2 separate regions of the Homo sapiens genome follow, and region 1 is linked to region 2. Evidence: fine-mapped expression QTL. A gene starts in region 2. The other region holds a variant in brackets. All regions are shown on one strand. Distances are between the middles of the regions. Region 1 overlaps PATL1 (PAT1 homolog 1, processing body mRNA decay factor). Region 2 holds the start of STX3 (syntaxin 3).

What was found. PIP is the estimated chance that this variant, and not a neighbour inherited with it, causes the effect.
Region 1: its variant is the best candidate, but not a certain one, in a credible set for the expression of STX3 in whole blood (INTERVAL, PIP 0.79).

The regions. Positions count from the first base shown.
Region 1 is chr11:59,661,485-59,664,401 of GRCh38, forward strand. All of the region lies in intron 2 of PATL1 (PAT1 homolog 1, processing body mRNA decay factor), which reads right to left. Among named protein-coding and RNA genes, the nearest start is that of PATL1, 6.1 kb to the right of the region's middle. The variant T/C (reference allele first, on the strand shown) is at 1,184.
Region 2 is chr11:59,753,896-59,756,812 of GRCh38, forward strand. STX3 (syntaxin 3) reads left to right here and starts at 1,481. Exons shown (of 11, transcript NM_004177.5): 1 at 1,481-1,740. The coding sequence starts at 1,711. RefSeq lists enhancers at 1-411, 101-395, 161-455, 392-551 and a silencer at 1,422-1,681.

The DNA of each region.
Region 1 (2,917 bases), 92 kb before region 2:
ATATGCATTACTTTCTAACCCACAAAAAGTATTATTTTGTATATGTTATATGGTATTCTTTTTTTAGTTACATCCTTTATATGTTTTATAAAATTCAACAGACAGGGATAACAGGTTATAACCAACACAGAAACAGAGACTTTCTTTTTTCTGCTTTCAGAGAAAATACATGTTTAAAAAATTCAAACACCATAAACACATGTAACTTAAGTGAAAGTTCCCCACAATTCCACAGCTGTGTTAAGTTTTAAACAGTTTTAAGCTGTGTTAAGTTTATAAAGTTAACTTGTTTCTTTTTATTTAAGCAATATGTCTTGGACATCTTTTCATGCATGCACACAGGCATAACTACTGATAGTAACTCATTCTTTTTAATACCTACATAAGATTGCATTTTATTGCTAAACTATAATGTAATTTATCCCCTACTGGTAAACATTTGGATTATTTACAATTTTCCAATATAATAATTAATACTGTAATAACATCATACATATCTTAGCATTTTATGTGACTATTTAAATAAACTAATTTCCTTTTAGAATCAGATTACATTAACAGTTAAAATTTGCTATATATATGTAATTTTTAATCATACAACGATGTATCACATAATACTAGTGATCCAAAGAGTGAGGGAAGTGGGACTTTCAAATATATAATTTTGGTATCATAGGACCCACTGCCTAGTTTGGTTGATTTATGTATTAGTTGTGGTAAGGGATTCCTTAAGTTGTGGATCACTGTGCCATCACTGGGATAAAGACTGTGGGCAAAAGCTATAAAAATATCCTTACTTAAGCCTCCGGGACATGGGTCTTCTTTATAATTATGTGGTATTTTCTTTCCCACCCAATAGTTTCCTCTTACCTGAGTGACTAGTCAGGTGGCACTCTTCCTCTAAACTGTCATCTTACAGAAAAGAATTTAAGGTAGCCATTTTATGATGATGGTCTCTGATAAGCCTATCCTGATGTGCTCCAAAAAATGGAAAAATCCACTTTAAATGAAAATTACAGTGTTAATTTAAATGACTAGTCATATGAAAGAAAATATTTAAAGAATAATGTAATTAAAAACCAAATGTGACATTCATATTTGTGTCATCCTTGGTAAGGAACAGTAAGCTGGGACAGGATAAATTGTTTTTTGCAACTTTACTAACTTAGCAATGCCACAAGAG[T/C]GGGAATCTATCATCCTGAATTGAGGGATTTGTAAAAACATTTACTTCCCAAATTTAAGAAGTTAATTTGTTAGTGGATTTGTTCTAATGCAGTAGAGTTCTAATTTGCATGCTTTTCTATCACTACTTCCAGTATTCATGCTTGCTAACTTTACCAAATCCTATCAAATATGGATAATCTATTTCCCCTTAATAATAATATTTTAAAAATATTGGTTAAGTCGCCATATTCTGTGAGAATAGATCTCTGGTGAATTGATTGTTACATTTTCAAACATGTAACCAGAGGAATCTATGCCATAAAATACCATCATCATCATTTTAGATTTTTCTTACTCTTGTAAAAAATTATCTGAAGTAGTATTTTAGAGATATTGTGCCCTTACTATAAAACAATATTTCACCCTGTATCTTTTTCAAATGACCTAAAAATATAGTTACTTAGATATGCCAGTGCTTGACCTGAGTCCATTATTGGTCAAAATGATAAAAGGTAGGCAAAAGAATAACAGACAAATGAAGGGAAAGAGATTATCCGTAATAACGAACTAACCTATACTCTGATACGGGTTACTGAATTCCTGGCTGCTTCTATAAACTTATACTTGTAATAACCCCTGAAGCCTGTCTCAGGGAGTTTTGAATGAAAACAAAATAAAAAGGAAGAAGTGATTTAATTTTAAGGCAATCTCAATCTCTAAAGACTATAGTAGCTATCAATAAAAGGGAGGTAGGAAGGAGGGTGATTCCTTCCAAGTGGAGGCAGGAGATTTCCAAAGACTCCCCCAAAACTATTAAACATAACTAGTAGTTTACAGTAATTGTGTCTATAGTTACTTAACCCGTCACTCTTCCTCATTTGTTAAAATGAGGATAATAATAGTACCTATCTCACAAGGCTGCTATGAGGATTAACAATATATGTAAAATATTTAGAATGGTGCCTAGCACATAATAAGCACCATGTTAAGTGTAAGCTTTTATTTTTAGAGAAGGAGTTGGGATTACTGCAACACTATTTATTGCTCTAAGATGATGCAAACATTTTTTCATGCAGAAGACTAGTTTCTTAAGGAAAGGTGACCATTTGTAGCCAGTGACCTAAAATGTCTACTGTAATAGCAGGTATTATTCCAGATGCCCGCTATATGAATTAAAAATCATAAAATCAAAACAAATGTCAAAGGTCTGACATTTCACCTCTTGATTTAAACTCTCTATACCAGCTTTATATCAACCTGCAGAGGAGTATCAAAGAAGTCACAGGTTGACTTGGAAAACAATTTTCTTTTTATAGTATTTACACCAAGCTGTTATGAGGAATTAAGATCTTCACTTTACAATTCCAGTACATTACACTCTCAAGGGAAAGGGCTCACCTTTGGAAATCTTTTCTCTATATTATTATAAACTTTCTTGGCCAAAAAATCCTTTCTAATCACCCTTTGGCCCTAAGGTACAAAGTGGGCTAATCATATGCTATTTAATTGCCTTAACTTTGTACTACCTGTTCTTTTACTGTGTAAACCTAATGGCTTTTTCAGCACGTGTACACTTTTCTTCTTTCCCATCATATAAAATACCGTTCCGGACACTCTAACATCCTTTTAAGGCAATATTATTCCCATCTTATGAGAAAAAATAGAAACTCAGGAAAAAAAGACTGTCCATAGCACTCTGGAAGTCAATGAGAAGGTATGACTCTTCCTCTTCTGTCCAGGTTGAAAACTGAGA
Region 2 (2,917 bases):
CCAGCTACTTGGGAGGCTGAGATGGGAGGATGGGTTGGGCCCAGGGGATCGAGGCTGCAGAGAGCGGTGATCGCGCCACTGCACTCAACTTGCGCAACAGAATGAGACTCTGTCTAAAAAACAAACAAACAAACAAACAAACAAACAAACAACCCCCAAACTCCCCAAAAATGTGTTAGGGGAAGGAGGTGGGACAGTGTGTATTTCTGATCTACTCGCCTTTCCTAGTATGACCACCAGGGGGCGCGGAAGCCCTCCTGGTACTAAGGCGGGGACAACCTGCCCAGCGAGCACAGCGGGCAGAAGGAAGTGTGCCGGACGCGAGAGAGAACTACGGCCGAGACCCGCGGGGCCGGCTCAAAGCCCGACCTCTGCCATACGCACCGTATCTTTATGGGAGCCGATGAGGTCAGCAGGGAGCACGCGTTCAGATGGCAGAAGAGGGCAAAGTACTGCTAGAATTACAAAGATATTTACAGCTTTTTAACCTGAAAGCACAGAGCAGATCCTATTCTTCAGAATTAAATCTTCGGCTCGCCAGTCCCGTTTATGGATCTCCACTCTGATGAATGTGCCATTTGTTCCCAAGAAGACAAATAGGGTAGGGAGAAGAGGGAGAGGCGGGGAGAAGACTCGAGATAAAGGGACGATCTGCTTTTCGGAAGCAGAAGCCGCCTGGGAACCACCTGCACACCAAGCAGGCTGCGAGGACGGGGAGCGCTCCAGTGCAAAGTTCTGTATTTTAAAGCCCCTCCTCGCTCACAGGCTTCACAGCGAACTACGAAGTGGGTACCATCTCTGATTTACAGACACGGGAACGGGGTCCTCTTGAGAAACGATGCTTTCCCAAACGTCTGCAAATTGTGAGTGCCAAGTGTCTCCACTGGCACTAACAACATCGAGCTGCTTACGTTTCTCGGAGCGGTCCCGATTTCCAACAAGCAAAAGATCCAAATTCTCTGACCACCCTGACCGTCCTGTATCTCCAGATCTCCAGGTCTTTCCTCTGGACACCTCCTCCATCCCCCCACTTTCACTGCCAGCAGCCCTGAGGCTGCGCGGGATCCCGCTACTCGGAATGCCTTCCTCCTGGCGGGATATTTTTAGAACACTCGACTGCCACCCAATGTAGCCCACATCACATTGTCTTATTTGTTTTCGGGAGCTTGTCCCCGCCTAGCAAGGAGTCGGCTAAGAACTGGATCCTAGCGAGGAGCCCGGCACAGACAGCGAATGACCGCAGCCAGACAGTCGCTCTTGCTCTTCCTCGGCCCTGCGGCAGGATCCGCCGGTGCAGGGGCCTCTCCCCGGACTCCACGCGTGTCTGGAGGGCTCTCGGGTTAGGGAAGGGGGCTTTGGAGACGCCCCGGGCGGCCGGGCGGTGGCGGGACGCGGGCCCTTTAAGAAGGAGCGAGGGGCGCGGCCAGGTAGGGGCGGGTCCAGGGCGGATCAGCGCTGCGCCGGCGCCGGCCCGGGAGCCGGATTTGGAGCGCGAGGCGCCGGTGGGGGCGGAGGGGGCTGCGCGGCGGAGGCTCCCGTGGCCTCGGACGCTCCTCCTAGCTAGCGGCCGCCGCCCGCCGCCGCCTGCGCCTCCAGCTCCTTCGCCCCGGCGGGCCCGGCCGCCGCTTCCGGCAGCTCACCTGGGAAGCGCTCACCTGGGACGCGCTCACCTGGGACGCGCTACCTGCCTCCGGGCGCCTGGGCTTCAGGATGAAGGACCGTCTGGAGCAGCTGAAGGCCGTGAGTTTCGCCGCAGGCGGGGTGCTGCCAGGAGGGGTGCTGCATGGGAGAGGGGCTTCCCTTTGCTCCCCAAGTCGAGGCTGGAGGGGGGCCCGAGCCGGAGGCTTGCCCTCCCCAAGCCCCCACCGCTTCCCGCGCCGGTTCCGCACCCTCCCCTCCCCTCCCCTGCGGGGTCATGTGCCCGGTGATTCATCGCTAGGCAATGATTTTCCTGAACGCCTCTAACTCTCCCACCCCGCAAGCTGGACAGTGTCTGTCCAGAGCTGGTTCCCGAAGCGGGTGCTTGGGCCCGGGAGGTCAGGGGTCCCTTCACCACCTGCCCACTGCTGCCTGGCACTATGCCCAGGACCAGCCTCCTTCTCCCTTTCCTGTTTCTCTCCTGAGGTGCTACAGGCCTGGCTGCCCCTTCCCCCAGGGAGCAGCTCAGAGCTCTCTGGTGACCTCTGGAGCTGTGAGCCGGTCACATGCTGGGATGGGTCAGCTCCTCTCCAACCGGTGGTCTGTAATTGTTATCCCCGGGTGTCATTGTCCCCCCCTCCCCCGCCGTATCTTTTGGAACAGCTGTGGTTAGGTCAAAGGATCTGAAGGTAGACTACCTCCAGCCTTGGCTGCGCAAAAGCTGTAAAGCCTTAGGTTACTTACTGTGAGTCTCTGTTTCCTTATCTATCAAATGGGAATGATCATACCCTAGGAATTTGTTGGGAGGATCAGCTGATACAATGGAACTTGATACAGAAAAGGGTTAACGCATAGGGTTTTAAGCCAGATATTCATTGACTCATTCAGTACATAATTATTGAGTGTATTCTATGGGGAGGTCCAGTGCTAAGCCTTGGAGATTCAGTGGCACAGGTTCTACCTTAATAGAATTAAAATCTAGCCCTTGACACTCAAGAGTTTAGTCCATCTACTTTGGAGCTTGTTACAAGTGTAGCAGCTTAGGCCTGAGTCTAGCCCCGCAGAATCAGAATCTAATTATTCATCCATTTCCCCAGGTGATTCATGGGCACATTACAGTTTGGGAAGCACTGGACTGGATTAGAACTGGGGTTGTCTCCTGGCTCCACTGCTTACTGGTGATCCCTTAAAATCCCAGCCTAAGTTTTGTCATTTGTAAAATGGGTAGTTGTAAGGTCGAAATGCAACAGAAGATGCTTAAGAACACTTTTAGGGTGCA